Linked DNA regions of Homo sapiens. The protein of the gene in region 7 purifies or fractionates together with the protein of the main gene of each other region. This does not show direct contact. Each region holds a gene or a part of one and is shown on either strand. Other genes may lie near its edges. The genes, in order: SLC25A24, PPM1L, PHLPP1, ARV1, SLC20A2, SKAP2 and SLC22A2.

Region 1 (4,483 bases), on a different chromosome or scaffold from region 7:
GTAGTTGCAATGGTAACCACAAAAATAGCATCTATAGAATGCACACAAAGGGAAATGAGAAGGGAATCAGAACATATCACTACAAAAAAAAAAAAAAATCAACAAAACACAGAAGAAGCCAGGAAGAGAGGAAGGGAAAAACAGAAAAGCCACAGGACAAAGATAAAAAGGTAGCTAGCCAAATGACAACAGTAAGTCCTTCCCTATCAGTAACTGCTTTAAATGTAAATGGATTAAATCCCCTAATTAAAAGATATAAATTGCTGAGTGAATAACACATACAGAATCAACTATACCTTATCTATGAGACTCACTTTAGATCTAAGGACACACATAAGCTGAAAGTGAAAGGATGGAAAAAGATATTCCATAAAAACGGGAACCCAAAGAGAAAAGGGGTGGCCATAATTACATCAGACAAAATAGACTTTAAGACACAAACTGTCACAAGAGACAAAGATGGACATTACATAATGATAAATGGGTCACTTTACCAGGAAGAAATTATAACTTCATATGGACCTAATATTAAGCTCCTAAATATATGAAGCAAACACTTACAGAACTGAAGGGAGGAATAAACAGCAACACAGCAATAGTAGTAGACCACCACCCCACTTAATGGTGTTGGGGAGGACATGGAGAAATTGGAATCTTGGTGTACATTGATAGAAATGTTAAAAAACAAAAAGGTCTAGTTACTATGGAAAATGACATGGAGGTTCCTCAAAAACTTAAAAATAGAATTACCATTTGACCCAGAAATTCCACTTCTGAGTATATGTCAAAAAGAACTGAAAACAGTATCTTGAAGAGATATTTGCACAACCATGTTCACTGCAGCACTATTCACAATAGTCAAGATGTAGAAACAATCCAAATGTCCATCAACAGATGAATAAAGAAAATGTGATATATATACCCAACAAATTATTATTCAGCCTTAAAAACAAAAAAGTCCTGTTGTATGCTATCATATGGATGAATCATGAGGAAACTATGTTACATGAAATAAGCCAGTCACGGAAAGAGAAATACCACATGATTTCACTTATACAAGGTATTTAATGTAGTCAAACTCATAAAACGAGAAAGTAGGTTACACAGCGCTGGGGTGAAGGGGAAATTGGGAGCTGTTGTTTAATGACTATAGAGTTTAAGTTTTGAGAAGTGAAAAAGTTCTAGAGATCTGTTGCACAACAAACCACAAACAGTTAACACTTACTGTACTATATATTTAAAAATGGTTAAAATCATAAACTTTATGTTATGTGTTTTTAATCACAATTTTTTAAAAAACTCAGCACAAGAAGTAAAGTCCTGAACCATACCACCTCACACCTAAGAGGACGGCCATAATAAAAATAAGCTTTTTTAAAATGGAAATTAAGTGTTAATAAGGACGTGGAAAAACTGGAACCTTTGTATGTTGCTGGTGAGAATGTAAGTGCAGCCACTATGGAAAACAGTCTGATAGTTCCTAAAAGCTAAACACAGAATGACCATATGGCTCAGCAATTCCATTCTGAGATATATACCCAAAGGAATTGAAGGCATAGACTCGAACAGATACGCAGATGCCAATGTTCACTGCAGCATTATTCACAATGTTGGAAAAGTAGAAATAATCCAAATGCTCTTCAACAGATGAAGGACTAAACAAAATGTGGTATATACACATAACGGAATATTACTCAGCCATGAAAAGAAATGAAGTTCTGATACATGCTACAACATGAACAAACCTTAGAGACATTATGCTAAGAGTAATAAATCAGACACAAAAAGAAAAATACTGTATGATTCTACTTATAAGATATCTTGAATGGGTAAATTCCTAGACATAGAAAGCAGATTAGAGGTTACCAAAGGTTTGAGTTACGGAGGGTAGGAAGTTATTGCTTAAAGGTTAAGGTGTTTCTGTTTGGAGTGAGGAAAAGGATTTGGAAATAGTGTTGATGGTTGCACAATATTGTGAATGTAATTAATGCCACTGAATTGTACACTTAAAATTAGTAAAATGGCAAATTTTATATTTTATAATAATTTTTAAAAATTATGTAAGAAGCCAAAAACCATTTGCTTGTACACTTCAAATGAGTGAAATGTAAGGAATATGAACTAAATCTCAATAAAGCTCTTTAAAAAAAAAATTCGACTCTTCTTTTCATTACACATTCCACTCTTCCTCTACGCTGTAGCTTAGGTCTCATCCTAACATGCACCCTGGCTCATGTCTGTCGCAGCACAGATAACCACGCTGAGTTTTAGTCGTTTGTCTCCCCCACCAGACCTTCAGTTTCTTCAAGGCACACATTGAGTCCTTTGAATCCCCAGATCCAGTGTCTAACCTAGTGGTTTGTATAGTGTGTGCTCAATAATTGTTTGTGAGATTCATAAATTATTAAATGATTTAGATTGCAGGGTTGATCCAAGATTTGTATTCTTCCGTACAAGGAATGAAACTGTATTACTCATGTTAGTCACATTAGTCACTTGGCTTAATGTCAGATTTTTGCAAATCCAAAACAAAGGAAAAAATCTCTAGAAACACCTTTTAAGGTGAACAACTATACCTAACTTTGAGTCTACTCTTCATTAACAAAAGCAATTCCCAAGAAAATCTAATACAAAAGTGACCCCATGCATATTCACACTCAAGTTACTTGAAAGTTCAAATAACACATGCTTGAATTTACTTCTGGTCACACACTGTTTTCTGGTATATATCTACTTCTTCATATAAAGTCCAATTCTAACAAGATCTAACTGCATTTTCCAATTCAAAAGATTTCTACAAACTCACCTCATACACAGCAAGATCTATGCCTGCATAAGGTATGATACCTAATAAATTGGGAACATAGCCTTTGTAAAAAGCTCCCAAGCCTTCATGTTTCAAAATCTTCTTGGCACAATCATATATTCCAGAGTACTGCCCAGTTTTGCCTACAGCCAGCCTGGTTTTCATAACCTGGATATAAAAAAAAACAAAATATGATTGTTCATATTAACTCTATCATCATGGGATTCAAATGAAGTAATTTTACATGGAACAAATACCTAGCACATATTGTCACTCAAAAGACTGTACAATTTGTTGATACATTCTCTTTCATGTATTACCTCTATTGGGGGGCTAAGACCAAAGCCAGAGAGACCCGTTTACTGCAAGGAGGATCTGATGAAGGAAGTGACCAAGGAAATGGAAGCAAGATAATCTATTGATGTCTTAACAAAACTGACTGGTGACCACCTGCATCTGGAAGGTGAGGGAAATGGTAGTATAAAGGATAACCCCAATACTTCTAGCTTGGAACACAGGATGGGGCAGTGGGGAGTTGGGAAGGTGATACTATTAACTGATATGGAGGATATGAGAGGAAAAATAGGTATTAAGTTTTTTTGAGAGGTGTGTGGAGTAATATAAACAATCATATTAAGATGCTTAAAAAAAGCTGTATTAGCATGCATACCACATATCGGTGAAAATTGTATTTATCTTGCTTAAGTCATCAGTTACTAAAAACCCCTCTGCTATATCAATAAATTCCACATCTACAATATTATTTTTGCTATAAAGCAGTAGTTGGAAAACTTTTCCTGTAAAGACTAAATAGTAAAATATCTGTCGTTGCAAGCCTAAAATATTAGGTCTCGGTTGTATATTACTTTTCTTTTCTTTTGTTTTTGCCTACTTTTTAAAAATTGTACTTTAAGTTCTGGGATACATGTGCAGAACGTGCAGGTTTGTTACATAGGTATACACGTGCCATGGTGGTTTGCTGCACCCATCAACCTGTCACCTACATTAGGTATTTCTTCTAATGCTATTCCTCCCCTAGCCCCTCATCCCCAAAAAGGCCCCAGTGTGTGATGTTCCCCTCCCTGTGTCCATGTATTCTCATTGTTCAACTCCAACTTATGAGTGAGAACATGTGGTGTTTGGTTTTCTGTTCCTGTGTTAGGTTGCTGAGAATGATGGCTTCCAGCTTCATCCATGTCCCTACAAAGGACATGAACTCATCCTTGTTTATGGCTGCATAGTATTCCATGGTGTATATGTGCCATATTTTGTTTATCTAGTCTATCACTGATGGGCATTTGGGTTGGTTCCAAGTCTTTGCTATTGTGAACAGTGCTGCAATAAATATACGTGTGCATGTGTCTTTATAGTAGAAAAATCTATAATCCTTTGAGTATATAACCAGTAATGGGATTGCTGGGTCAAACGGTATTTCTGGTTCTAGATCCTTGAGGAATTGCCACACTGTCTTCCACAATGCTTGAACTAATTTACACTCCCACCAACAGTGTAAAAGCATTCCTATTTCTCCACATATTTGCCAGCATCTGTTGTTTCCTGACTTTTTAACTAACTGGCGTGAGATGGTATGCCATTGTGGTTTTGATTTGCATTTCTCTAACAACCAGGGATGATGAGCCTTTTCTCACGTTTGTTGGCTGCATAAATGTCTTCTTA
Region 2 (4,176 bases), on a different chromosome or scaffold from region 7:
GCGAGCAGGGAAGGCCTTCGTGGCCACTGAGTCCCCTACTCCAGGGGCGGCGGCCGCTCTCCGAAAGAGCGGCCCTTCTCGTCCCTCCCGAGGTTATCGTCAGAGTGCACTTCCTTGGGGAAACAGAGGTCATTCTGTCGAGTCCCCCCTTTCTGCTGTTCTCGGGAGGGAGAAGGCTGCTGGACCCAGGCTCGCTCCCCGCCTCTCGGGAGATCCGGGAAGGCCTCTATTGCTGAACGCCGAGACAGCGGCCAGCGGCCCGATCGTCTCCCTACCGCTTTGCAAGCCGGGAGAAGTGCGTCCCTTCTCGCTTGCCTTATGGCTGGCGAAGCGGGGACCGCACTATAGTGCAGCCGCCGAAGGGGGGAACGCTCACGTATGGCTCTCGGCTTCCCAGTGAGCAGCAATAGTTCCTGGAAAACCAACGCTAAGACTACCGGGGTCAGTATTAGCTTGTCTTAGGAGCCGGCACAGGGGGAAGGAACAACGATTCGCAAGAGCTAGGCAGCGGACCTCCCTCTTTTCTCCCCCTTGGCTGTCCTGGACCGCATGGGGCTGCGAGCCCGCACCGGCGGCCGCGGAACTTGCTCAGCCTCTGACAGCTGGGTGGGAACACCTCGGGGTGTCGAGTCCCGACTCAAGGGGCGGGACGGGGCGGGGCGAGCGCGCGGGGGGCGGAGCGCGCGCGAGCCGGGACGCGAGGAGGGAGCGCGCGAGTGAAGCCGAGCTGAGCCGAGCCGATCCGAGCCGGGAGGTGCCTGGGAGAGGCAGGCAGAGCCCAGCCGGCCGCCTGCGGCTCAGTACCGACCGTGCCGCGTCGCCGGGCTCTGCGTACCCCTGTCTCTGCCCAGGCTCCCGCAAAACTTTTATTCTCTGGGGCCCCCGGGGTGTGTGAAGGAATTGGAACCTTCCGCCATCTCCGCGCTCCCCTTCGGCGGCGACCGAGGGGACCTGCGTCCCTCGTCCGCCGGGCTCTGGAGCCCTGCGCCTCACCTGCTGATCGCTCTCCGGAGTCTCGAGGGGGCACCCCCGGAGGGACCGCGCGGGCGCCGGCGCCCCTGAACTCTCCCGCTCACCGCGGCAGACCCGCCCAGCGCAACTTTAACTTGATTCTTCTTGCCCAACCGGGGCACCAGCGGCTGCTGCTGCGGCGGCTGCTGCTACCGCCGCCGCCGCGGTCTCACAAAGGGGCTCAGGGAAGGGAGGCGGCGCGGGCGGCAGGGACGGGCCTCCGGGCCGCCGAGGCGGGGAGACAAAAGGGAAGCTGCCTCTGCTCGCGCTGCCTGCTCGGAGCCGCTTGCTCGGCTGCCTCTGGCTGGGCTCCGCGATCCTCTCCCCCACCCTCGGGCACTGCTCCGCCTCCCTCCCGGCGGGCTGTCCCCGCAGTGCTCCCGGACCCGGCGAGCCTTCGGGGCGCGCGTCGCTGGTGGTGGTTGAGGCTCTAGCGATAATAAATGATAGAGGATACAATGACTTTGCTGTCTCTGCTGGGTCGCATCATGCGCTACTTCTTGCTGAGACCCGAGACGCTTTTCCTGCTGTGCATCAGCTTGGCTCTATGGAGTTACTTCTTCCACACCGACGAGGTGAAGACCATCGTGAAGTCCAGCCGGGACGCCGTGAAGATGGTGAAGGGCAAGGTAGCCGAGATCATGCAGAACGATCGACTCGGGGGGCTTGATGTGCTCGAGGCCGAGTTTTCCAAGACCTGGGAGTTCAAGAACCACAACGTGGCGGTGTACTCCATCCAGGGCCGGAGAGACCACATGGAGGACCGCTTCGAAGTTCTCACGGATCTGGCCAACAAGACGCACCCGTCCATCTTCGGGATCTTCGACGGGCACGGGGGAGAGGTAGGAGCTACCCCGGGGCTTTGTATTTGTGTCCGTGTATGTCTCGTGTGTGTGTGTGTGTGTGTGTGTGTGTGTGTGTGTGTATAAACAACAGGACAGCGTGTGCGCAGCGGGAGAGGATCTGGGTGCGAGGGGCGTGGTGATGACACCACGGTGCCTGGCTGGACAAATGCGGCTCAAGTTGCCAAAAGCACTGCTGGATCCAGACTTCTTGGTGCTGAGGGTCCACTTTAGGGAAAGGAGAGTCATCCACAGCATATTTGTTGCTACTTAATGTGAGGTTCCCAAGGCCGGAACCCAGAAAACACTGTGCTAGTTTAGCAAGGAGAATTAATGGTATCTCCAGTGAACTTTGGTCCCAGACCCCAGTGCCCTTGTTCTAGGGTTTGAGCTGAACTAGGCACAGAGAAGGAAGACAATATCTTATGCTTCATTAGGCAAACAGGCTATATCTGCAGAGCGAGCTCATTGAGGGTGAAGGAAGCTGTGACTCCTTCCCATCGCCTTCACTCTAGGGAGGAATCCGAGGGGCAGCTCTGCGCTTCTTTCCAACTCTATCAACTTTACAAGTGCAATCGGGCCAATTGACAGGAGCGCCTCGCTGGCCGCTTGTTTTCACTAGGATCTCAGAGCGGGACCTAGATGTCCCTGGCCTTTGCAGAGGTGGCTATGCCCGCAAAGGAGGCGGTGCTTTGACCTCACCCTTGCGCCCTGGCGGGCTTAGGGGTGCAGACGTCGTCCTGCTTCTAGATTCCTTTGTTTGTGGTTCATCTGGAAGCAGGAGATAGCTAGAGGCCAGTTCAGTTCCCTCTCCCACATTTCTGTGGCACCCGGGTTGTGCGCTGAGGCCCAGGTTTCCTGGAGGTTAGGCAAAGCTTGGCTCTGGTCCTTGCGCATTGGCCCAGGCAAAGTGAGAGGCAAATGTGGCTCTAGCGCCATGCTCCAAAGAACACTGGGCCAATCACCCCATCTCTCAAATTGGCGGTTTGTAACGGGTTCATTGCTGCATACTCTTTGTTTTCCCTTTTGGCAGCATACTTTTCTTATTCTTAACCCCTTCCTGTTTTTGATTACACCCCTCCCCCGAACTCCCATACAAGTTTTCCCCCAACTTTCTTCTCTGCCCTCTGATCTCTGGGTAGGCTGTAGGGAACTGCAGGGACTGCCATTCTTTTTCAAGCATTTGCTTGTTCTTTGGCCTTTGTTTTGGGTAAACATTGAGAAAGCTTTCAACTGGATATCTTATCCGCATTCCTTACCCATCACTCTGCTAATCTTTTCATGCTACTGTGCCTACCTACCTTGTAGAACCAACTTTGCCAAGAATGACAAACTTAGTAGAAAAACTCATTTGGTAGAACTGAAATCAGTTTTTGCCATTTTCCATCCACTCTAGCTTTTTTTATATTGTTTTTTCAGAATGCAGGTTTCTCACTGGTTGTAAATTTGTAACCTCTTGGGTAGTGTCGGGGTCCCCTCCCCTTGGTCACAGAGTAAGTGAAAGATATAAAATTAATTGAGGGAAAAAAGGCTGTGTACATGGGCAAAAACATATCTTAATGACAAAGTTGCCAGTATAATGGCTGATTTGTCTTCTTGGCTTGAAGCAGACTATCTGTATTTTCATTTTTTTGTGCCTAAATTCAATGAGGGTGAAGGAAGCTGTGATTCCTTCCTTTGTAAATCATTTAACAAGCTTATATTTATTATATATTTTTATATTAAAATTGGTGGCTGGTGATAATCTGCTTCTGGTCTTAGAAAGCACAGTTTTAATTTTATTAAAGATTTGGTTGTAATAGTAATGTGGTGAAATTTTGGGTTGTGGTTGTCTGGGTGTGATGCATTGGCATAGTTTCAGCCTTGGGCTAAAAAGGTGTAAGTGATTGGGTGATTTAATTTTTTTTTCTTTTAAGTTGATACTGTAAAACCTGAAAGTTGCAGACCAAAACACTTTTCAGGTTGAAAAATTTCTAGTAGTATCTTGTGGTAAATGTACCATCCAGAAAAGGGACACGATAAATGCTTTTATTTTACTAAAAGTATTTTACACGTACATGGCTTGTCATTAAATTTTTTAACTGCAAATGAAAAGATGATAATCTTTAGCCAAACCATGAAATACTTTTCTTTGTGCCTTACATTAAAAAGCATGCTGTTTGCAAAATAATTGATATTATCAGTACTCTGAAAAATAGAGTATTTGTTCTGTTCATAATCCCTTATCGTATGTAGCCAGTTAGTTCATTTTGGCTTTGTTTTAGGGCAAAATAAGGAAAGTGCTACAAAAGGAGTTACTTAATTGCTATTGGGAGTATAACAG
Region 3 (4,483 bases), on a different chromosome or scaffold from region 7:
TGCATTAGGAAATCCCGCACAAAGACCAGTTCCCCTAAGGACCAAAAGCTCACCACACAACCCGTACCCTCTTAACAGATAGGGAAAATAAGAGACATACAAAAGACCCTGGAGAAGGGCCTATAGTTTAGGTTCCTAAACTCCAACTTTCAGATATTTGGCTCTAGACCCTTCCAAGGCATCTCTACTTTCTCCCTTTCACAGGCACAGTGATTTGTAAAAAGTATAGCAAGTAATCCGAGACTGGGGTTCTCAGTTTTTAATTCTTACCCAGTGCTTGAGGGTGCATAAAAAGCAGACCTTTTGGGGGTTGTGAAGGGATGTGTTTGTGCTGTGGTCTGTATGCACATGTGTATGTGTGTGCATATGATACATGCTTGCTGTTTTTCTAGAACAAAAGGGTGGTAAAAACAGGAAAGCTGATGTGCCTGCTAGTTACAACATCCTTTGAAGGGAGTCTCACAACCTGAGGTCAGGTCCTGGCTGCACTACCTATTAGCCCGTAGGCACTGTGCTTCACCTCACTGTACATCACTTTCAGTAACATTACCCAGCTAACTGGTAACAATTTATGACACATAAGGTAATTTAGAACAATGACTGGTACATATTAAGGGCTTGCTGGATATTAGCCATTATTGTTCAGTTGCTAATTGTATATGCTCACTGAGAATCTGAAAGTCAGGGGTGAGTGTAGCAGCAAGAACCACCCCAGGCTTGCCTCCACCAAGCTCTCTGAGAGGAACCATTTGTGATGCAGGTATCACTGTAAAGGCTGCTCTGAACACTCCTCCCCAGACACCACTTCTACCCCTCTAACAAAGCTACTTGCTCTGGCAGAATATCAAGGGAGAGAAAGAGCAGATAAGGATAAAACACCATGACTGCTCTCATGACCTCAAATACCAGTACATTCATCACTCCTGGGTCCCACATGAGTGAGTCTGCAGCACAATACTTATAGACAGGCAATTCCATTATTACCTAGAAAGCCATGAAGGTGGTAAGAATAAACAATTCTCTGAATGAAGGAATCCTCATTCCTCTAAGAGTTACAAACAATATTCCACAATTTCTACAGCAACCTAAAGCTCTGCTGCTGGTGGCAACTCCAGGCTATGGCCTAGGATTCTGCCAGTAACACTGTCTTGAACATTTAATAAAGGAGAAAACAAAATATAAAGAATGATTTAACTCTTGGGCTAAAATCTGACCATCTTGATTTCACAAAGGTTTGCACTATCTCAAACCAGTGATAGTATTTCATAAGGGCCAAGAAACTAGGATAGAAACGGTCCATTTCAAAGAGAGGTCCCCACAACAGAAAGTCTAAAAAGCCCCTACAGCTCACATGATTTGGGAGGAGAAATGGCATTGCAAACAATCTGATGAAAATCTGCAATCAACACAGGCCAGTGAGGTCCAGTTCTCAGAGAAACTAATTCCTTGTCATTGTCTGAGCCTTCTACAAAGTTGTCTGAACATCAGTATGTCTCAAACCGGAGCACCATTCCTGATGCCTGGGCAACACCAAACTTGCCTGAATGCATCTTGGTACTCATAGTCAAAAAACATGGCTTGGAGACCATTGGGCACCTGCTTTTCTAAACAGAGGATAAACACTCAAAGAGCAAGAAAACACACAGCAGGTAAGCAGGAACTCTGAGTTTTACCTTTGCATGACAATGAATGTATTGACCATGTATTCTTCTTCGTTTTTTGTTTTTTGCAGCTCTTCAGCCAAAATGTCACTCATAGTGCACTGGAGAAGGTAGGGCACCTCCACATTCCGGTCTCCGTCAAACACACCATACAGGGCTTCGCGGTTGTCACAGAAGTTATTCACCGACAGGGCTGCGACACACAACCTGCAAGGCAACCACACTTCTGTGCTGAGTCCACTCATCCTCCTGCTCCAGGCCCAGCCCAGTGCTTATTTCAAGATTTTCCTAACTCAGTTTTGTCTCTTTCTTCATGACTCCAGACAGATTAAGGGCAGGTAAACTGACTCCAGCTAATTTCCAACAGCCAATTTTGATAAGCAGAGAAGGATGAGCACAAATTATGCTTCACACATGCCTTCCTACATGCTTCTCTTCTGATGAGTTTATTTTTAAATGTCAGTGACAGAAGGGGAAAAAGAGGCATGGGAAATAAGAGAAGATTATGAATCCATATCTACACATACATTCAATAAGCAGTTATTAACCACAATCTCCACATCCAGCCAAAATAGAAAACTAAAACACTGGGAAAAATAGACGAAACCTATATGAAAAGCATGTACAAATACAGAAAAAGCCTCAAATGACTTTTAAAAAATTATTTTTATTTTTATTTTTTTTTGAGACAGGGTCTCCCTCTATCACCTAGGCTGCAGTGCAGTAGTGTGATCTCGGCTCACTGCAGTCTCCACTTCTAGGGCTCAAGCGATTCTCCCACCTCAGCCTCCTGAGTAGCTAGGACTACAGGAGTATGCCACCATGCCCAGCTAATTTTGTATTTTTAGTAGAGATGGGATTTCACCATGTTGGCCAGGCTGGTCTCGAACTCCTGAGCTTAAGCAATCTGCCAGCCTCAGCCTCCCAAAGTGCTGGGATTACAGGTGTGAGCCACTATGTCCAGCCTTCAAATGACCTTTTTAAAAGGCAGGAAAAACAAACAAACAAACCCCAACTGGACAATAAGAGCACAGGTCAGTAATCCTGGAGAGAGCCTGCTTCCCGCCCAGCTTCCTCCTGGGGAAGTGTCCAGGCTGCAGCACAGGGAGGAAGACCCAGGTGGAGGCTGTGGTCTCCGTGCATTGAGGAGATGGAGCTGGGGGCTGAAGGAGGACAAGGTGGCCAGAGTCCACAGTCAGTGCACTGGAGGAGGATAGTGGTTCCCGGCAAATGTGGAAAGTTTGGAGACTGTCTCCACTCCAAACTCAAAAGAATCAAACTGTTTCCAAGCAACTGTGTCCCAGAAACTGTCCAAAATGAAACAGAGAGGAAAAAAAAAAGACTGGGAAAAAAAAAAAATAAGGCCAGGACCTTAGTGAGTGGTGGGATAACTTCAAACAGCCTACTATACTATAGGGAGTTGGAGTCTTCGAAAGAAGAGACAGATAACACTTTTGAGGAGTTGATGGCTGAAAACATTTCCAATATGAAGAAAATTATAAAACTACAGATACTGCAAGCAAGACAAACATGAAGAAGACTTAACTGAGACACATCAAAATCAAATTGCTAGAAACCAGGAACAAAGGCGGGAGGTAGAGCAGGGGAAACCAGGACGTGCCCAACAGCAGGCTTCTCCCTGGAAACCTGGTAGGAGACAGTGGAGCAACGTCTTGAACGTACCAACGGAAAACAACTAGAAAACAACCTAGATTTCTAAGCCAGTACAAACAGCTCTGAAAAGTTAAGGGGAAATAAAGACATTTCCAGATGCACAAATAAAAGCATTTACCACCAGCAGGATGGCACTAAAGAAATGGAAAAGGAAATCCTTGAGGCACAAGAAAATGACACTAGATGGAAATCCGGAACTGTACAAAAGAATGAAGCACAACGATAATGACAGCCAGGTGAGTGAACAGAAACATTTCCTCATTTTTTGTTTCATTTTTTTTTGAGATGGAGTCTCACTCTGTCACACAGGCTGGAGTGCAGTGGTGTGATCTTGGTTCACTGCAATCTCTGCCTCCCGGGTTCAAGTGGTTCTCCTCCCTCAGCCTCCTGAGTAGCTGGGATTACAGGCACCCGCCACCACGCCCAGCTAATTTTTGTATTTTCTGTAGAGACAGCATTTCACCATCTTGGCCAGGTTGGTCTCATACTCCTGATCTCGAGCGATCCGCCCGCCTCGGCCTCTCAAAGTGCTGGGATTACAGGCATGAGCCACCATGCCCAGCCTCATTTTCTTATTTTAAAAATCACCTTAGAACAGTGATTCTTAATAGAATATTCAATAATATTCTAATGGGTATTGGGAGGCAACAACAAAGAATTATCTGGCTCAAAATGTCAATGGTATTGAAGTTGAGAAACACTGCTTTAGAAAATAACTAAAGTAAAAATAACAATAATGTATTTTGGAGGTTATAACATAGATGGAAGCAGAACATATGACAACAACAGCATAAAGGCCAGGACAGGAGAAGGAGAAGTACATATTTGCAAGGTTCTTATATGTGAAATGACATTACTATTACTTGAAGGTAAACAGTAATGAGTTAAATATCACACTATAAACTCTAAACAAGCCACACATGTACACACAGAGACACACGGTAGAATAAGAATAAATAAAGATAAAATCAAATCATAACAAATAATCCAAAAGAATGAAGAAAAAGGAAAAAGGAAATAAAGAACAGATGGCACAAATAGAAAACAATAGTAAGGTGGAAGGTTTAAACCTAACCATATCAATAATTTCATTAAATATAAAGGCCTTAACACTACCGAAAAGACAAAAAATTCAGACTGAATAAAAA
Region 4 (3,553 bases), on a different chromosome or scaffold from region 7:
GGTGACACCGAATTCCACATCAGACCTGTGGACACTTGAGGTAATGGCAGGACCGTCCTGGTAGGAGGCAGGGGACCTGGCAGAGAGGGGAAGCTGGAGGTATGAGGCCTGGAAGGAAAGTACACAGTTACGTGCACAGTGAAGGGAAGGAAGAGGGCTGAGGACAGAATCCTGGCACAGGCAAAGAAGTCAGTGAAGAAAGATCTAATGGGAAGGGACTGGGTGGCCTGTTTCAGCAGGAGCCAAAAGCCAGAGGTTTCTGGAGCAGAGCTAAGGGAGGAGGAGGACTCAGAAAACAAGGAGGAATTGGCTTCCTTGTGTATTTTTTTGTTTTTGAGACAGGATCTTGTTCTGTCACCCAGGCTGGAGTGCAGTGGCACAATCACAGCTCACTGCAGCCTTAACTTCATGGGCTCAAGCAATCATCCTACCTCAGCTTCCTGAGTAGTTGGGAGTACAGGTGTACGCCACCATGCCCAGCTATTGTTTTTTTTTTTTTTCCTGTAAAGATGGGGTCTCACTATGTTGCCCAGGCTGGTCTTGATCTCCTGGGCTCAAGCCATCTTCCTGACTCGGCCTCCCAAAGTGCTGGGATTACAGAAATGAGCCACTGTGCCCTGCTCTCCTTGTGAATTTTAGGAGCATAGGTTCAAGAGACTCTGGGTGAAAGTATGTTTTACAAAGAGGAAAGGCAGTGAAGAAACAGGGGAAGCAGGCTTACATCAACTGTTCTGGAATGAAGAGCTGTGCATAGGCAGAGGGGAGAGAGCTGCTATACAGGAGAGAGGATCAATGAAGCAGCGATATGTCTGAAGACCCAAAAAGGTGGATTAGCTGGGCATGAAGAGAGATTGAGGCAACAGGAGTGGAGGATGGCATGTTAGGAGAGGCAGAGAAGCTTTACAGCCGCTACTTGCAAGGAGGATGTAACAGCGAGGAGGGAGAGACCAAAGCGCAGCCTCAACTCTCCCTGACGGGGGTCTGTGTCCCTCTGCTCCAGTGTTTTCCTCACTCTCTGGCCCAGCCTTCCAGGATCCTGCCTAAGGTCCTGCTTCCTAACACAGAGGCTGCCATCCACAGTCTGGCTGTGACTGGAGGGAGGGGAACACCCACAGGTCAGAAACAGCCCCAGAGAGGAAGCTGAGCACAACATGAGATAGGAAGGAGAGAAGGAGGAAAGAATGAGGAAGACCGAAGACGAACTGACGTGAAGAGGGAAGCTTAAGGAACTTGTGAAGGTCTCAATTCTCAGCAAAGTCAGAGCAGACAAAGGGGACGACCAGAACAGAACAATCGAGGTATGGCCCTCTGATGGGAGGGTCACTGGAGGTGACTATGAAGGCACAGGAGCAGCATGACATCTTCTGAGGTTCTGTGCACTGGCAGAGGTGGCTGCTCAGGAAACACTGCGAGGCTCTCTAGGAGACAGGTGGCAAGACTCACCCAAACAGCCTTAGCAAAGCACGTATGATGGAAGGCAAAAGGCTGATGGATGTCAAGGTACTAACAGAGAAGAGCACAACACAGCCTATAGGTTCCAGGTGTGGTTAAAAAAGAGGCAAGGCAGGTCAGAAGTAGCGAAAATGAGAGGTCAAGAGACTAAGAGGTGAGAAAGGCAGCAAAAACCTGGCATGGGGGAAGGGAGGGTGGAGAATGGTTGGGAAGGGTAGGAGACAGTTTTAGAGTCTGCAATCCTAGTAGAATGGGTGGGAGTGGAGGTGTTAGAAAAATTGTGAGGATAGGACCCTAGAAGCAACAAAAACATGGATGTTGATGTCCCAGAGGGTGACAAAAGGAACTAAAGTGAAGACCCCTGGGGGCCATGTAGTAAAGTCCTTGAGGAAGATGAGGGTGACCTAGAGGCAGTTAGACGCTAGAGAATGGGTTATGTAAGGGCACCGACTTCTTTTACAATGACATCTGTCTTATTTGAGAAGGCTACATGTCTGAATGCATGAACACTACATGCTTTCAGTACCTCTTCAGAAGTCCTGAGATTTAAAGATGGCATAATCACTTCCAACATCCCATTCCATACTCTGGAAGAAGTAGACCATGATGCTTTCCAGCAGTAAGCCACTCAACACGGCCAAGAAGGAGAGCTTACGGTTGATGTTTAGGGTCACTGGAAAGGAGAAGGCAGCCAATAAGTTCAGAATTAATGAAACGATATTGACATGTAAATTTTCGGGTAGTATGAATTGTTTTGTAAAGCTGTTTTTGGAAAAATCAATGTTTGTTCTTATTAATCTATGCTGTTACCTTCTCCCACTTTTCCATCTACACATTTTTAGAGAACCAAAGCCTCTACTTACAACAAAACACTGAGCCCCTTCTCCTCATATCAAGCGGCAGATTCCCGTGAATATCAAAGGAGAAAACAAAAAATTCTAACGCTATAAGAGAATAACGACAACAACAACAAAATGATACTTTCAGTGTCACAGTTTGCAAGATGACAAGCATTCTGATAAAAAGTATCAGGTAATAAGTTCATTTAAAATAGGACTTCGGCCAGGCACAGCGGCTCATGCTTGTTCCCAGCACTTTGGGATGCCAAGGTGGACAGACTGCTCGAGCCCAGGAGTTCAAGACCAGGCTGGCAACATGTCGAAACCCTGTCTCTACAAAAATTTAGCAGGGTGTGGTGGCATATACCTGTGGCCAGCTTTTCAGGAGGCTGAGTTGGGAGGATCACTTGACCTCAGGAAGTAGAGGCTGTAGTGAGTTCTGATCACATCACTGCACTCTAGCCTGGGTGACCAAGTGACACCCTATCTCAAAAAAATAAATAAAATAAAAATAAATAAAATAGCACTATGTAAAATATATGGGAAAAATGAAGACACACAGGGCTGCTCTTCCTGATATAGTAGAAATTGTCCTGGATTGAGAGGCAGATACTCAGCATTCTCTCCTGACTTGATAACTGCCCAGCCATGTAACGTCGGACAAGCCACTTAACCCTCAGAGCCCCAGGAGCTCATTCATAAAATCAAATAATGGCAGTTCTACTAACCTCACAGGACAGAGATGATGCATATGAGAGCATTTTGAAAACTATAAAGTACTATATGGTTAAATGTAACAAACACTGAGTACCTGCTATGTATAAGGTGCTATAGAAGTGTTAGGTATTATTACTATGCGATGAAGAATTCCAGTGTTCAACAGGTTATATAAAAACTGCACCCCAGAAACAAGGCTTTAAGCTTTTTATGGGTTGAAAACTGAGAAGGCAGAATAAACACATAAACATACCTCTAATTGCCTGAAAATTTGATGTAAGAACAAATACTTTAATGAGTTTGAGGCACACAGATGTGTAGTCATGTTCCCAAATGACAGCTGGAATCAGCAAGAGTTTTCCGTAGCTAGATAATAATAATGCTTTCAGCAGCAAAATGAAGTTGGGCTTTTTTTTTGCCGTCATGGGCCGTTCTACCCACAGGAAGGTAAAAATGCCAATAAAATAGGCAGTTTGTTCTAAAGAAGAAATGGAAAATAAAAGTATGAATGTCCCCATCCAAAATATATCCCCTTAAAAACAAAT
Region 5 (4,483 bases), on a different chromosome or scaffold from region 7:
TTAAAGAGAAAGTTTTCTATTATTACATAAGTAATCTATGCTTATTGAAGAAAAAAATTAACATACAGGTAACCAAAAAGAAGGGGTGAAAATCACATATAAGCTCACCTCCTAGAGATAGTTATTGCTCATAATAAATGCAGCATTCTTTTCTCAGGTACATACATAGGTGTGCCTTGCTTTTATAAAAATGGGGTCATAAATACATAATGTTTTGTAACCTGCTAGTTTTTACTTGATATACATCTAACGCCATCATTTCAAATGGCTGCGTAGTGTTCTATGCTGTGGAAATACAATAAATTATTTAATCAGTAACTTATTAGGTTGTTTCTGGGGATATTTTATTCAACTATTAGGTCCATAAATCTTGTATAGTCTAATAATAAGTAAAATTTTTTACCTTTTTCTTCAAGTTTAATTTTTTTTGACTGGACAGCTATAATGAGACAAAGTTTATTCCAAACCACTTAACCACTCTTTTTTGTTTTTTTGAGATGGGGTCTTGCTCTGTCACCCAGGCTGGAGTGCAACGGTGCGATCTCGGCTCCCTGCAACCTCTGCCTCCCGGGTTCAAGCAATTCTCCTGCCTCAGCCTCCCGAGTAGCTGGGAATACAGGCATGTGCCACCACACTTGGCTAATTTTTTTGTATTTTTTTTTTTTTAGTAGAGACGGGGTTTCACTGTGTTAGCCAGAATGGTCTCGATCTCCTGACCTCGTGATCCACCCACCCTGGCCTCCCAAAGTGCTGGGATTAAAGCCATGAGCCACTGCGCCCGGCCACGTCTCTTATTTTTAATGACACATTTGTGAACTAGCTACAGATTGATTTTAGAAACGTGATTTTTCCAAGGAAGAAATACCAAGAAAAGAATGACTATTTAGTAATTCCTCTTTGTACAGAAATGAAAATAGCTTTTTGGCTGCCATTATTAAGAACCAAATTAAACAGACACTTGGAATGTTCCCTACTGGCTGTATATTTATTGGAAGTTCATGGGTTTCACAGACTCTACTTATATTGAAAGGCTCATTCAGGGTTAAGATCAGCTCCCTGTGCCCTCTGGAGTGGGGAGACACGTCGATCTTATCTCTGTACAGACACCATGTTCATTGGGCCTCATATGTTCTGAAAACAGACACAGATGTAGAAAATAACAGTGCATGCAGCTTCATGTCTGAGAGGTCAGTTTTTTGAAACATAATGAGGTTGAAAGATTGAAAGACTGAATAGTAACATCAATATCTTATGACCAGGCAAACTACAGTTTGGCTCAAATGTCCTCACCAGTCTTTTCTCACCTCAAGCAATTTTTAGTACTCTGCAAACATGTAATTAACTATGCTATAAAAGCCAAGGATTCTACAGATCCCTCCCCCTTTTTTTTTTTTTTCCAGACAGAGTCTTGTTCTGTTGCCTAGGCTGGAGTGCAGTGGTGTGATCTTGGCTCACTGCAACCTCCACCTCCCAGGTTCAAGCAATTCTCCTGCCTCAGCCTCCCAAGTAGCTGGGATTACAGGCGTGCGCCACCACGCCCGGCTAATTTTTGTATTTTTGGTAGAGAGGGGGTTTCACCATGTTGGTCAGGCTGGTCTCGAACTCCTGACCCCAAGTGATCCACCCACCTTGGCCTCCCAAAGTGCTGGGAATACAGGCGTGAGCCACCACACCCGGCCAGATCCCATTTTCAAGTGCTGAAATATTAGGGCCACAATTTCCTGGCTAAGGTAGGGCGGGTCTTTTTCAGACATGGCAGTGCGTTACTTGTGTGACAGTTTTTATTTTTATCTTTATTATTATTTTTAAAAACCTAGCTCCTGCAGGAAGTATGACACTTTTTTAACAGCACTGGCAAAACATGTCCTCAGAGAGCCCTTTCTTCATTATGAGCACAAAAAGGTTTTATTGTCCTAAATGCTATACAAAGTATAACAAATAGACACTCTCAGCAGCCTGTGTTTTCAACCGGAGACACTTCTGTCAAGCGAAAGCACAAAGGAAAATATACAAAAGGGCACAGGCATAACTAAATTCAGATGCATTTCTATTACGTGCAAATAAAGGTGGGTGGAAGAGAGAGCAGAGAGATGAATAGGGGACTCCTAGGAGTAACTGTTTTGATTGGGAAAGGTGAGAATGGCCACCTTCCTGACTCTAGAGAACTCATTACAGAGGAGAAGGCAGAGCACTTACTTGTGGCCTTAGCCATTCCAATGGAATTAGAATTTATTTGTATTAAGTCCATCCTATGTGTGCCCCTGGGCTATTTGTTGTAGATACAAAAATGTTGTGATAAAATGTGTCCCTCTCCTCTATCTCTAGTGAGAGCTGACACACAGATAATACATTCCACTGTGCTTGGATTCGTTAGGGCCTTCTATGTTGCTTCCTGCTCCTAGGGTGTAGTGGGTAGGGTCCAACTTTCCTTGCAGCCCCCTCTCTTCTGAAATGGGCTGTGTGAAGACAGGGACGGACCAACCTGGCCACAGTCTGTGATGTAAAGTGCTCATGAGCCAACAATAAGCTCCCCACCCCCCATATGGGCTACACGCTACCTCTGCCCAGATCCCCTGCAGGTGGCTGTGAGGTCACATGGGGAGGAGAGTCTGGTAACACTGATAAAATACAGTAGATCCATATGCTAACACAATATTATTCTCACATTATCTCAGGTGAGCCTCATTTGAGAGGAACACTGTCTTAGCTCAGAAAAGTAATTGCAAAATTTTCCTGGTTAATTATTAATCTTCTCTAAGTGACAAAAGGAAATCCAGAGCAAAGTCAGGGCTGGAAGGGACTTTGAGAGGTCATTTATCTCCTGACTTTAGAGAGTACATTGAAAACACTGCAAACAAATATAATCCCATGTTTAGATGACTTCAGGAAAAAGGGTTACATTTTTTGGCATCCAGATTGCCCATTTTATAATACCCTCCATCTTTGCATCTCATCCAGCAGACCTCAAATGTCAACGTGCACCAGAATCACTTGGGAGATTTTTTAAACACAGGCTGCTGGCCCTACCCCATGTTTTCTGATTCAGCAGGGCCTGGGTGGGGCCTGAGAATCTGCATTTCTCACATGTTTCCAGGCGGTGCTGACGCTGAAGAAACAGGGTCCCCACTGTCGGCACCTCTGTTCCAGCCCAACCCTTGCTGGACCTGACCCTTTTATTCTAGATGGAAATAGATACCAGTGGGTCACCATTCTTTGCCACTGAGACACACATATACTTGAAGAACAATTCAAGAGTCTCCCGGTCATTTGTTTCCTCTTCCAGGCTAAATAATAGAAGTTCCCTACCCTCTTATCATAGGTATCATTTTCCAACCCTCAATTGGTTTTTTTTTTTTTTTTGAGGTTCTTTGTGGAGCCAAGTCTCTTTGTTGTGGAGCCATGAACTAGACCCAGAACCTTAGAGACTGGCTGAGGTTGGGCACGGGGGGAGGGACTCACAGACTCACAGAACCACGCAGGCCGCTCATGTTATTACTCCCCAGTACCCAAGCCTTCCTATCAGCCCTTCTTCTGATTCATGTGCTTCTAACTCCTTTACAAGCTGCAATAATGCTCAGTAGACCTTCATAATGCCTTTCCTCTGAGAAGCTGAAGGCATTTCCCTAACTAATATTACAGTTGACTCAATATCCTAAACCAGTGCAGGGTTAAGTAACTTGTTGAATTGCAAACCAGTTCAGGAAGGGAGAATCTGGAACTCCAGATTTCTATCTAAATATCATTTTATGGAGAAAGATGCTTTGATATTTATTGCACTTTATAACAAGTTTACCCCCTCCACATAATAATAATAGTTTTAGGTGCAAGTGAAACTGTGAAGCTTCTCCTCTTTGTAGGAGGATTGCAACAGAGGACTGAGAGTGGGGGGCAAGGCTTCTGGGGTCAGTCTTGTCACTTGTCCCCATCACTTCCCAGCTATGGAGGAGAAAGGGAAGGCACAGCCCAGGTGGCACAGCTGTCTGTCCTAATCGTCTTTGGCAAAAGCTCAGAGGAGCTGAATGCTGAAGTATCCTCAACCCACCCCACTCATCTTGTTTCCCTTTTCTTCATTTTCACATTTTTTTTTCTGCCAGTGTAGTTACTGAATGTCAGGGGGCCCAGTTTCTGTGTCCTGCCTTGTTGTAGCATGTGGGTTGGAACTATGCTTTCCTTGTGCACCGCATGTGCTGTGGGGTGCTTAATACATGCTAAATAATGACAGCAGTACCCCGTATGCCCGAGAAATCAGCCTTCCTCCTGAGGGCCATATCCCATTATGTTACACTTGTTTTTAAGACGGACGGAAGCTGAAGGCATCCCTCCTGCTCACTGCTCCTTCCACTTTAGATGAACAGCTGGAACTCACATAACACAGCCTCTTCCGACAAGATTTCCTTTAGAGAGAGAACATTCTAGGGATGTGATCACTGAGCATCCGGGCTCCAAGCCGAAAGGCAACCTGTTACATAGCGCAGTTCCCATT
Region 6 (4,995 bases), on a different chromosome or scaffold from region 7:
TTATCCAGGCTAAACCTGTTTTTCCATTGTTGTAGAAAAGAAAAAAATCAAAGGTTGCCTGTAATGCATATGGCAGCTCAAAATTTGCTTTCAACAACGAAATTCTGTAAGTCCTTTTCTGTTCATATAACCAAAAGAATAATCAACATTTTATAAAAAGCATAGGTCTTCAAGACTGACTCCACAGAAAATATAACTAAAAATCAAACTAGATAGCCACTTTTTCAATGGTATCTTTACACAACACATGTGAGTTAACAATAACAACCTCTTTTTTTTTTTTTTTTTTTTTTTACATTTCTATGGAATGGTTTTTATAGGGGAAGGAAAAAGGGAGAGGGAACAAATGTTGAAAGTATAGCATAGAACTGCCATAATCAGACAGAAAAATAAAGAGAAAGAAAAATAATAAATAAGAATACACTTGAGTACCTATCCCTTTTAAGCAGGTGAAATTTCAAACAGTACATATGACATATAATGATTTAGTTTAATAGGCATATGGAACACAAACAGATACATCTAAGCAACATTATTTTAACAGTCATTATCTTTTGATTATATATTCTTCTTTCTAAAAACAAAGGACTTTAAACCCCTGAAAAGTTTAGTTCCTTATCTTCTCTACCTTGGAATTCTAGCATAGTACCATGCATTCTAAGAGCACTCAACTGTTAACTACAACACCATTACCAATATCTCCTCAGTTTCAAAGAAATAGACTAAATAAGCCAGCAATATCTCTAATATTCAAACCAATATAAATACTTCTATAATGTTACTCTAAATCTAGTCATATACTATTACCCAATACACTTGAATTATGAAAAGAATCATGTACAATGCTAACAATATTTTTAGATGAAATACATGAAACAATTGCTGACAGCATCTATTCTTGAAGCGTTCTCTACCTCAAAAAAGATTTTAATTACAGTCAAACATAAAATGTTAGCAACTTTCCAAATAAGTTTTTTTAAAACCTGAAAAACACTGATTTGTTAAATTTCTTTAAACATAAATACGCCCCAACTCACTTCCATACTTCTTGAAAATATCCTCTGAAAATAAAGTGTAATCCAAATTTCCAATTCCAAAAGTTTTAATTGTAATATTTTTTAATACTTCATGTGTGTTTTAATATGTGATTTGCTTTAATAATATAAAATAGTGAAAATGTCAATAAAATGACTTAAAATAATTTCAGATGCTATGCTAGTATATTACCTGACTAAAGAGAGAAGGCAGAAATATATTGGAAGTTAGCATTGGCAGATAATTTAAATATGTAATTTTGAGTTTTTAGTTAAATTACACAAATAAGGGCCACAGGAAATACTTGTGATCTATGGGGATAAGAGAATAAAGGTTCTCATGACCTACATATCATATTATCTGTGATTTATGATTATGGATCCAAATAACAAACTGTACTATGGGAGGTACCAAGCTTTAAAACATGCACCCAGAGGTCTATATGTTATTTCTTAAATTCAAAAATACAGACATAGAATATCCTGAAAATGGTTTCATCTATTTTTGGAATAATGATAAACATTTTTCTGCGCTGGTTATTACAATAATATTCTGAACAAACAATTCCAGCATTGTAAAAACAAAAAATGTTAAGTGTAGTAAAACAAAATCAGTAGTCATGTGATGCAATAAAGCTGCCTGAAGTCAGTCTTTAGACTTCTTTAACTATTTCCCTTAGTGGTACCCGTTAATGACAACAAGCATTTCTTAGAGTGAAAGACTATCCCACCACAAATGCATTCAACATACTGTACCATAATCATACAAACATAAGTCTACATTCATACACTTAATATTACACTACCATATTAATAATGCCAAGCACCAAAATTGAATGACAGAATATTAGGAGATTTGGACTCACATTGCTATAGGAGTAACATATAAAATGTGTCATCAAATGTCACATTTTAGATGACATTGCTTTTTAAGAGCTAGAATAAGCAATCTGTAATCTAGTTATTCATAAGCAATACTGAGAGATAAATATTTTATAGACATCTAAAACTAAAAATCAAAATTCAGTTTCCAGAATTCTGACGTACACAAGACAAAATAAATGATGGTTGAAATTCCAGAACATTGAGATAGGTAAGATTTGTGCTACCTTAAAAACATATATTTTCTACCTTGTACAGAAATATAAATTATTGGTTCTTAGTGAACATACACACCTCCGTATCCAGTAAATTAATGAACTAGTAGTGGATTCATAATGCTACTGAAGAACCACGTTTTTAGCTCCTAAAATAAGTTCCTATAAATGGTAATGTAAAACTGAAAAAGGGAAGATAAGGGTACAAAGATGAAGTACTTTCATCGTGTCACACAGGAAGTAGAACTTTAACATATCCTTCCTTTTTTGCTTTAATATATTACTGAGGCTGGGGACAAGTGGCCATTTGAGAACCAGACCTTCTTCAAAAGTCTTAAACGTGAGTGAGCTGAATGTTTAAGAAAAACGGGAGTTTTAGAAATGACAAACTCTTTCACCCCATAACCCCTAACACCTGTGGCTCTGACAGCTCTTTGCATCTCTACATCCTCTACCTCCATTGGCCAGACCACCCAAGAACTACTTATTTGACTTCTGCTCCCTTCTGCTTGCTCACGCAGCATTCATTATCATTATCATTCTCTCTCCCTCTTCCACTCTTCCTCCCCCGCCCTTCTGTCACACACACACACACACACACACACACACCGTCTTCACAATGCACATAGAAACGTCCTGATCCCATTTGTGTAGATCACCAAAAAGGGCTTCGCCACCATCCCCGCACCAAATTTCAACACACACGTCCACTCCCTTTCTGAGACAAAACAACCCCTCTCCTCTCCTCCCTGTGCCGACCCCACTGGCTAGAAGACGTGGGAAGCGCGGGGAGGGAGGATAAGGGCTCTGAATGCTTCTGTCCCCACCGGCTCACCGTTCCCTCGCCCCCGCCCCGACAGCATTATCGCCGCCTTCCCGCTCTTTACCTGCCAACAGGTTCCTAATTTCCTCAGGGAGGGGGTAGGGAGAGGAGGTGCTGCTGGGGTTGGGCATGTTAGGGAGCGCAGGGCGTGCGGGGAAAGGACCTGCGCTGAAAAGGTGACCGACGGGGTGGGGCTGCGGCTGCGACCTAGACTCAGGCTAGCGGCCCGGATTAAGAACAGCGGGGCTACGAGTCGGGACACTGCCGGGCCGGGGCTCACAACAAGGAAGTCACTGAATCTCCAGCGAGCTGCAGCTGGACTGTCGGCCCAGCCCCGCCCAGAGGGCCGGGGCGGGGAGATGGGTGGGAAGGGACACGAAGGGCCTGAGGGGTCCAACTGCGCATGTGTATTCCTCGGTTTTCCCGGCCCCAGAAGAAAGAGCCTGTGGGCAAGCCACGCCCACCGCTACGCCGGGAAGCAGGAGGAGGAGCCACTGGTGGGAAGGGGGCGGACTGAGGCTGCGTCACCTGATGCTGCGTCACCTGATCCAGCGTCCGGAGCGCCTTACAGCCATTTTCGGTACTGGTGCCATCACAACTGCTGATCGTTTCTGCAGGATTCCAGAAAATAATGTATCCATGATACAGAGTGTATACAAGTTTTGCGATTACGCCTTCTGCGTAACAGTCAGTCCCACCGCAGTTTAACCCACAAGGAATTTTCTCTTGTCCTAAACTATTATGGCCTTCTTTGTCCGATTGAACGGAGGTAACGAAGTCTCGTCTTCCGCCAGTCGTCCGGGCGAAGCCAGTCTGGAGCCGCTCCGGAGCGCGCGTTGTGATTGGCTCTTACATTACTTTTCTACCTAATTCGTATCCTTGGGGTGACAGATTTTCCCCACTACAAGGAAGACTGGGAAGTTCTAAGCACCGTCCTTTGGCAGGAAAAAACAAACAAAACAAAACAAAAAAACAGAAGGCCGAATAGACATTGGCACCACTGTCCATCTACAAGCATCAAAAATAAAATTGCTGGTGGTGGTTAGTAGAATAAAATTATAAAATCTGCTCACTCCAACTTGACCATTTAGTCAACAAATACTTACTGTCTTCTATCTGTAAAGCTTCTTAAAAGTTTTCTCTTTTAAAAAAAATGGCTTCTTTAAAACCTTTAACAGGCATACATCTTTGTGCTTCCCAGATATTGCATTTTTTAACAAATTGAAGGTTTGTGGCAACCCTGCATCAAGCAAATCTGTGGGCGCCATTTTTCCAAAAGCATGTGCTCAGTTCATGTCTCTGTCACATTTTGGTGATTCTAACAATATTTCAAACTTTTTCATTATTATTGTATATGTTATGGTGATCTTTGAAGTTACTATTATAATTACTTTGGGACATCACAAACAGCACCCATATAAGACAGCGACTGTAATCCATAAATGTGTGTGTTCTGACTGCTCTACCAACCCTATACCTTCCTCCATATCTCTCCCTCTCTTGGGCCTCCCCATTCCTTGAGACACAACAATATTGACATTAAGCCAATTAATAACCCTACGATGGCCTCTGAGTGTTCCAGTAAAAGAATCATTTTACTTTAAATCAAAAGCTTACTTTAAATCAAAAGCTAGAAATGATTAAGCTTAGTGAGGAAGGCATATTGAAAGCCGAGACAGACCAAAAGCTAGGGCTCTTGCACCAAACAGCCAGGTAGTGAATGCAAGGGAAAAGTCCTTGAAGGAAAGTAAAAATGCTACTCCAGTGAACACACGAATGATAAGAAAGCGAAGGAGGCTTATTGCTGGTAAAGAAACGTTTTCATGTTCTGGATAGAAGATCAAACCAGACATAACATTCCCTTAAGCCAACGCCTAATCGAGTGCAAGGCCCTAACTCTCTTCAAGTCTACGAAGGCTGAGAGGTAAAGAAGCTGCAGAAGAAAAGTTGGAAGTTAGCAGAGGTTGGTTCATGATGTTTAAGGAAATAAGCCATCTTCAGAGCATAAAATTGTAAGGTGAAGCAGCAAATGCTGGTGAAG
Region 7 (4,483 bases):
CCAAATTTCAAAGCTGCCTCTCCTGTGCACTATTGTAAAGGTTGCTAAAGTAATTCCTCATGAGCTTTGCTTTTGTCAGTGATTGTAAATCTCCATTTGCCTGGGTGGAGATCCAATGTGCCCTGAAAAGATGCATTCCCCACTAGAGAAAGCATGGCTTGAAGCTCTGAGAGCAGCCTGTAGGTAGCAAACACAATAAAGATCAAGTCACTGGGCTGTGAAGCCACTGGAATTATTCTTGTTCAGAAATTTATTTTTTCTCCAGGTAGAAAAGAAAAAAAGGAAAGAAAAGGCAATCCCCCCACAACCCTGTTTTTTGTTTGTTTGTTTTTTGCCAGTTCTGTACTACAATAGAGATCTACATGCATCATCAATTAAGTTATACCAATAGTTCTCTAGTTGGGCTATGCATTTGAATCACCTGGAGAATTAAAAAACTATTGGTTTCCAAGCCCTACCCTAGAACAATTAAATCAGTATTTCTGGGGGTTTTGGCTTTGGTATTTTGTAAGCTCCCAGGTGATTCCAATGTGAAGCCGAGGTTGCCATTGCCTTGATCTGTGCTTAGGGGCTACACCGATCTTAATATTTGCCCAAGAAAAACACGATCAGGAAAACCTACCAGACACAACCCACATTGCTGCCCACCGTCAGCGCTAATACCGGGATGAGGTCATGTTTTCTTCCCTTCCTTACTATGGATGACTGTGATTAAAACAATTTGGAGGCATTTCAAAGTGAAAAATATTCCTTACCAGTTGTACATCAATATCATAGTATGTTTCCTTATCTGAGGAGTTCTGACCAAGTCAAGAAATGAAGGGTTCAATTTCTTGCCAGTTTCCTCTTCAAGTCTCAGGCGCTAAGAAAAGGAATAGAAAGGACGGCTTTGTATATTTAATGCTAGTGTCCCTGGGTCACATAGGGAATAACAATAATTTCTTACCGTCCTGAGCGCCCATCTCATGCCCAGCACTAGAGCAAGCACTTTCCATACTGTGTCCCATTTCATTTTTTTTTTTTTTTTTTTTTTGAGACTGAATCTTGCTCTGTCACCCAGGCTTGAGTGCAGTGGTGCAATCTCGGCTCACTGCAACCTCCACCTCCTGGGTTCAAGCAATCCTCTGCCTCAGCCTCCTGAGTAGCTGGGATTACAGGCATGCACCACAATGCCCAGCTTTTTTTTTTTTTTTTTTTTCCCCGAGACAGGGTCTTGCTCTATTGCCCAGGCTGGAGTGCAGTGGCACGATCTTGGCTCACTGAAACATCTGCCTCCCGGGCTCAAGGAATTCTTCTGCCTCAGCCTCCTGAGTAGCTGGGATTACAGGCATCCGCCACCATGCCCAGCTAATTTTTGTATTTTTAACAGAGATGGGGTTTCACCATGTTGGCCAGGCTGGTCTCAAACTCCTGACCTAGTGATCTGCCCGCCTCGGCTTCCCAAAGTGCTGGGATTACAGGCATGAGCCACTGCGCCCGACCAATTTTTGTATTTTTAGTAGAGGTGGGGTTTTGCCACGTTGGCCAGGCTGGTCTCGAGCTCCCAACCTCAGATGATCTACCTGCCTCTACCTCCCAAAGTGATGGCATTACAGGTGTGAGCCACTGCACCTGGCCTATTTTCGAATAAGCTTAATCTTCTCTTTTCTACCCGCTGTGGAATGAAAATGTTTGAGGTCAACGTGGTGAGATCTACTAAAGGCAAACAATAAACACAGGTAACGAACACCTCTGTAACTGGATTCTATTTAAGAAGGCAGGGGATTGCTTAAAAGCTTTTCAGCCTGGTGCGGTGGCTCATGCCTGTAATCCCAGCACTTTGGGAAGCCGAGGCTGGTGGATCACCTGAGGTCAGGAGTTCGAGATCAGCCTAGCCAACATGGCGAAACTCTGTCTCTACTAAAAACACAAAAATTAGCTTGGCGTGGTGGTGCTCGTCTGTAATTCTGGCTACTAGGGAGGCTGAAGCAGGAGAATCGCTTGAACCTGGGAAGTGGAGATTGCAGTGAGCCGAGATTGTGCCACTGCACTCCAACCTGGGTGACAGAGTAAGACTCCATCTCAAAAAAAAAAGCTTTTTGGACAATTTCTATCCAAAGTGTTTACAATTCTAAGAAATCATGTGTGTTTAAAGAACTGCTTTACTGATCTAAGAATCTGACCTGAGGATGGTGAATATGCAGATGATGGGGGTGCTGGGCACCTGGGCATAGGAGACTGGTGAAGGCTTAAGTTGCACAAGACAGAAGCTCCTCACGTGACCTTTAAATGATTTCTGGTTCTCTTTTAGTTTGATGGTTTCCACCTGTTTGAAATATTCTCCCACGGAACCACAAATCTTAGCATATAAAATTCTCTGTTGCATTCCGCTACAGGTAAGCCAAAATGCAAGGGGGTGGGTGCTTCCATGGTTCCCTGCTGAGATCACTGGCATGCATGAATCTTACCAGAGCCTCCCTTTTCTCCATCCCCTGATTTGATACTTAAGGCCCTGGCTCACCTGAAGGGAGGCGGGTAGAGATTTTCCATTTTTCTTTGCGATGTGCTTAATGATTCTCATGGCTTCAGCATTCTTATTCTGGGAGATCAGCCACCTGGGAGACTCAGGTATGCACCTAGGGTACAAGGTGAGCGGAGGGCAACTCTTACTGAATCCTCCTTACCCCATCCCCCATTTTTTTATAATCAGATTTCTCTGAGGATGTTAATACAGTTGGATCTCCAAAGAAAATAACACTCGTGTAGGGGGATATGTGGTTCTTTCCTCCCTCAAATGCTAAATCCCTCCTCAGGGATTTCTAAGCAGAAACACAGGAAGCAAGCTGCAAAGCAGGGTGCGGCTGAACATCCAGCTCCTCTTGCAAGGAGGAGAGGCAGGTCCCTCAGGGTGGCCCTGGGCTTTGCAAAGGCCTGAGAACTGGCAGAGGGGTCAAGGACTGGATGCTGGAGTATGCAAACCATTGTGGGGGTGGGGAGCAAGTATGTATATGTGTTATGCTCAATTTCCCAAAGGAATGAGATAAGAATTTGAGGTCAGAGGGTGAGGTAACTGAAAAGCGAGACTTCATAGTTTGAGTTTGATGTAGCAGGGCTCGGGGAGCCCTTGCAAGTTTTTGAGCAAGACTAGAACTATTGACTCTGTGTCTGGAGGGAACTCTGAGCAGCTGGGTTCAGGGTGAATGAGTTCAGGGTGGAGGTTCAGCGGGAGGAGAAACTGGAGAAAGGAGATAATAGGGCTGCTGCTGTGGCAGTTATGGTGTAAATGTAGGAAGGCCCCAGTTGGGATCATCACTCTGGGAGCGAAGTTGCTCTGAGAGGCAGGGCTTAAAAGGAACTTGGAATGGATGTTTTTGTGGAAGTGTAATAGAGACAGCAGGAAGGGTCACTCTCAGGGTATAATGGACTGAATGTTTCTGTCCCCGCTGAAGCGCATGCACTGATGCCCTCACCCCCAGTGTGCAATTTGGAGTTGGGGCCTGTGGCAGGTAATTAAGTTTAGCTGAGGTCTGGAGAGTGGGGCCCCCAGATATCCTTACAAGAAGAGGAAGAGAGACTAGAGTGTTATTTTTTCTTCACCATGTGAGGGCCCACAAGTGGGATGTCTGCAAGTCAGGAAGTGGGCTCCCATCAGGAACAAATCTGCCAGCACCTGGATCTTAGACTTCCCAGCCTCCAGAACTATGGGAAATATGTTTTTAAGTACCCGGTCCATGGCATTTTGTCACTGCAGTCTGAGCTGGTAAAACACAGAGTTTTATTGGCTTTTGGATAAGAAACAGGCTTCTGGGAAAGAGTTGAGATGTTTAATTCTTAGGCAAGACAGCCATGGGAAGAACAAGTGGGTAAATCCAGGAGAAACTAAATAAATGGGTTGTAGCATGGGAGAGAGATTTGGTCTGATAATCCAGTATCCCCTTTGCTTTATTTCAGATAATCTCACATTAGGGGTTTCTAAGAGTTTCTGGTATTTCCCATGTGTTTCCCTTAGGCAGGGATGACTAATATATTTTACTTGCCTTGGTAACTCTGATTGATTGGTATGGTCTGTCTGGAGTGTCATGTTGGCCTTATCTGTGATGAAGAATACTGTGATTCACTGGGGATGTCTGCCTTGGGCATGAGTATTGGGAAATGGTGACACAAGTGCCATGCTCTGCTTTCTCCACCCTAAAGTTTCCTCTGAGTGGGGAGAGAATAGTAATAGTGATATTTTCAGTCTCTTCAAAGGGTCTACCGTCCAAATTGTACCACAGCTCCTAGAAGCTAATTTAAACACCAAATAAATAATGTGGAAATGTAAGATCCAAGTCATAAAAACTTTAAGCCCAAAGAGAAAGGACATTTGATTTACAGACGGAGAGGTGAAGCTTGTGGTTTTTATTCCTGAAACATGGAATTGGGCTCTTTGTGAAATGGGTCTGGAGAGTGAAAGCAATCTCAGAATCAGAAAGATAGTGTGCATTAAGGAAGGCAGACTTCTTAG

What was found.
Region 1: the proteins of SLC22A2 (region 7) and SLC25A24 purify together in Homo sapiens (affinity purification with mass spectrometry; one large-scale study listed by BioGRID and IntAct). This does not show direct contact.
Region 2: the proteins of SLC22A2 (region 7) and PPM1L purify together in Homo sapiens (affinity purification with mass spectrometry; one large-scale study listed by BioGRID and IntAct). This does not show direct contact.
Region 3: the proteins of SLC22A2 (region 7) and PHLPP1 purify together in Homo sapiens (affinity purification with mass spectrometry; one large-scale study listed by BioGRID and IntAct). This does not show direct contact.
Region 4: the proteins of SLC22A2 (region 7) and ARV1 purify together in Homo sapiens (affinity purification with mass spectrometry; one large-scale study listed by BioGRID and IntAct). This does not show direct contact.
Region 5: the proteins of SLC22A2 (region 7) and SLC20A2 purify together in Homo sapiens (affinity purification with mass spectrometry; one large-scale study listed by BioGRID and IntAct). This does not show direct contact.
Region 6: the proteins of SLC22A2 (region 7) and SKAP2 purify together in Homo sapiens (affinity purification with mass spectrometry; one large-scale study listed by BioGRID and IntAct). This does not show direct contact.

The regions. Positions count from the first base shown.
Region 1 is NC_000001.11:108,140,737-108,145,219, forward strand, and holds part of SLC25A24 (mitochondrial adenyl nucleotide antiporter SLC25A24), read right to left. Parts: intron 2,975-4,483; coding exon 2,807-2,974; intron 1-2,806. UniProt on the Homo sapiens protein: Electroneutral antiporter that mediates the transport of adenyl nucleotides through the inner mitochondrial membrane. Originally identified as an ATP-magnesium/inorganic phosphate antiporter, it also acts as a broad specificity adenyl nucleotide antiporter.
Region 2 is NC_000003.12:160,754,855-160,759,030, forward strand, and holds the start of PPM1L (protein phosphatase 1L), read left to right. Parts: upstream 1-1,376; 5' UTR 1,377-1,454; coding exon 1,455-1,853; intron 1,854-4,176. UniProt on the Homo sapiens protein: Acts as a suppressor of the SAPK signaling pathways by associating with and dephosphorylating MAP3K7/TAK1 and MAP3K5, and by attenuating the association between MAP3K7/TAK1 and MAP2K4 or MAP2K6.
Region 3 is NC_000018.10:62,969,899-62,974,381, reverse strand, and holds part of PHLPP1 (PH domain leucine-rich repeat-containing protein phosphatase 1), read right to left. Parts: intron 1,869-4,483; coding exon 1,674-1,868; intron 1-1,673. UniProt on the Homo sapiens protein: Protein phosphatase involved in regulation of Akt and PKC signaling.
Region 4 is NC_000001.11:230,995,693-230,999,245, reverse strand, and holds part of ARV1 (protein ARV1), read right to left. Parts: intron 3,487-3,553; coding exon 3,262-3,486; intron 2,126-3,261; coding exon 1,983-2,125; 3' UTR 1,979-1,982; intron 1-1,978. UniProt on the Homo sapiens protein: Plays a role as a mediator in the endoplasmic reticulum (ER) cholesterol and bile acid homeostasis. Participates in sterol transport out of the ER and distribution into plasma membranes.
Region 5 is NC_000008.11:42,494,371-42,498,853, forward strand, and holds part of SLC20A2 (sodium-dependent phosphate transporter 2), read right to left. Parts: intron 1-4,483. UniProt on the Homo sapiens protein: Sodium-phosphate symporter which preferentially transports the monovalent form of phosphate with a stoichiometry of two sodium ions per phosphate ion.
Region 6 is NC_000007.14:26,861,345-26,866,339, forward strand, and holds the start of SKAP2 (src kinase-associated phosphoprotein 2), read right to left. Parts: upstream 3,247-4,995; 5' UTR 3,086-3,246; coding exon 3,019-3,085; intron 1-3,018. UniProt on the Homo sapiens protein: May be involved in B-cell and macrophage adhesion processes. In B-cells, may act by coupling the B-cell receptor (BCR) to integrin activation. May play a role in src signaling pathway.
Region 7 is NC_000006.12:160,244,684-160,249,166, forward strand, and holds part of SLC22A2 (solute carrier family 22 member 2), read right to left. Parts: intron 2,616-4,483; coding exon 2,501-2,615; intron 863-2,500; coding exon 756-862; intron 1-755. UniProt on the Homo sapiens protein: Electrogenic voltage-dependent transporter that mediates the transport of a variety of organic cations such as endogenous bioactive amines, cationic drugs and xenobiotics. Functions as a Na(+)-independent, bidirectional uniporter.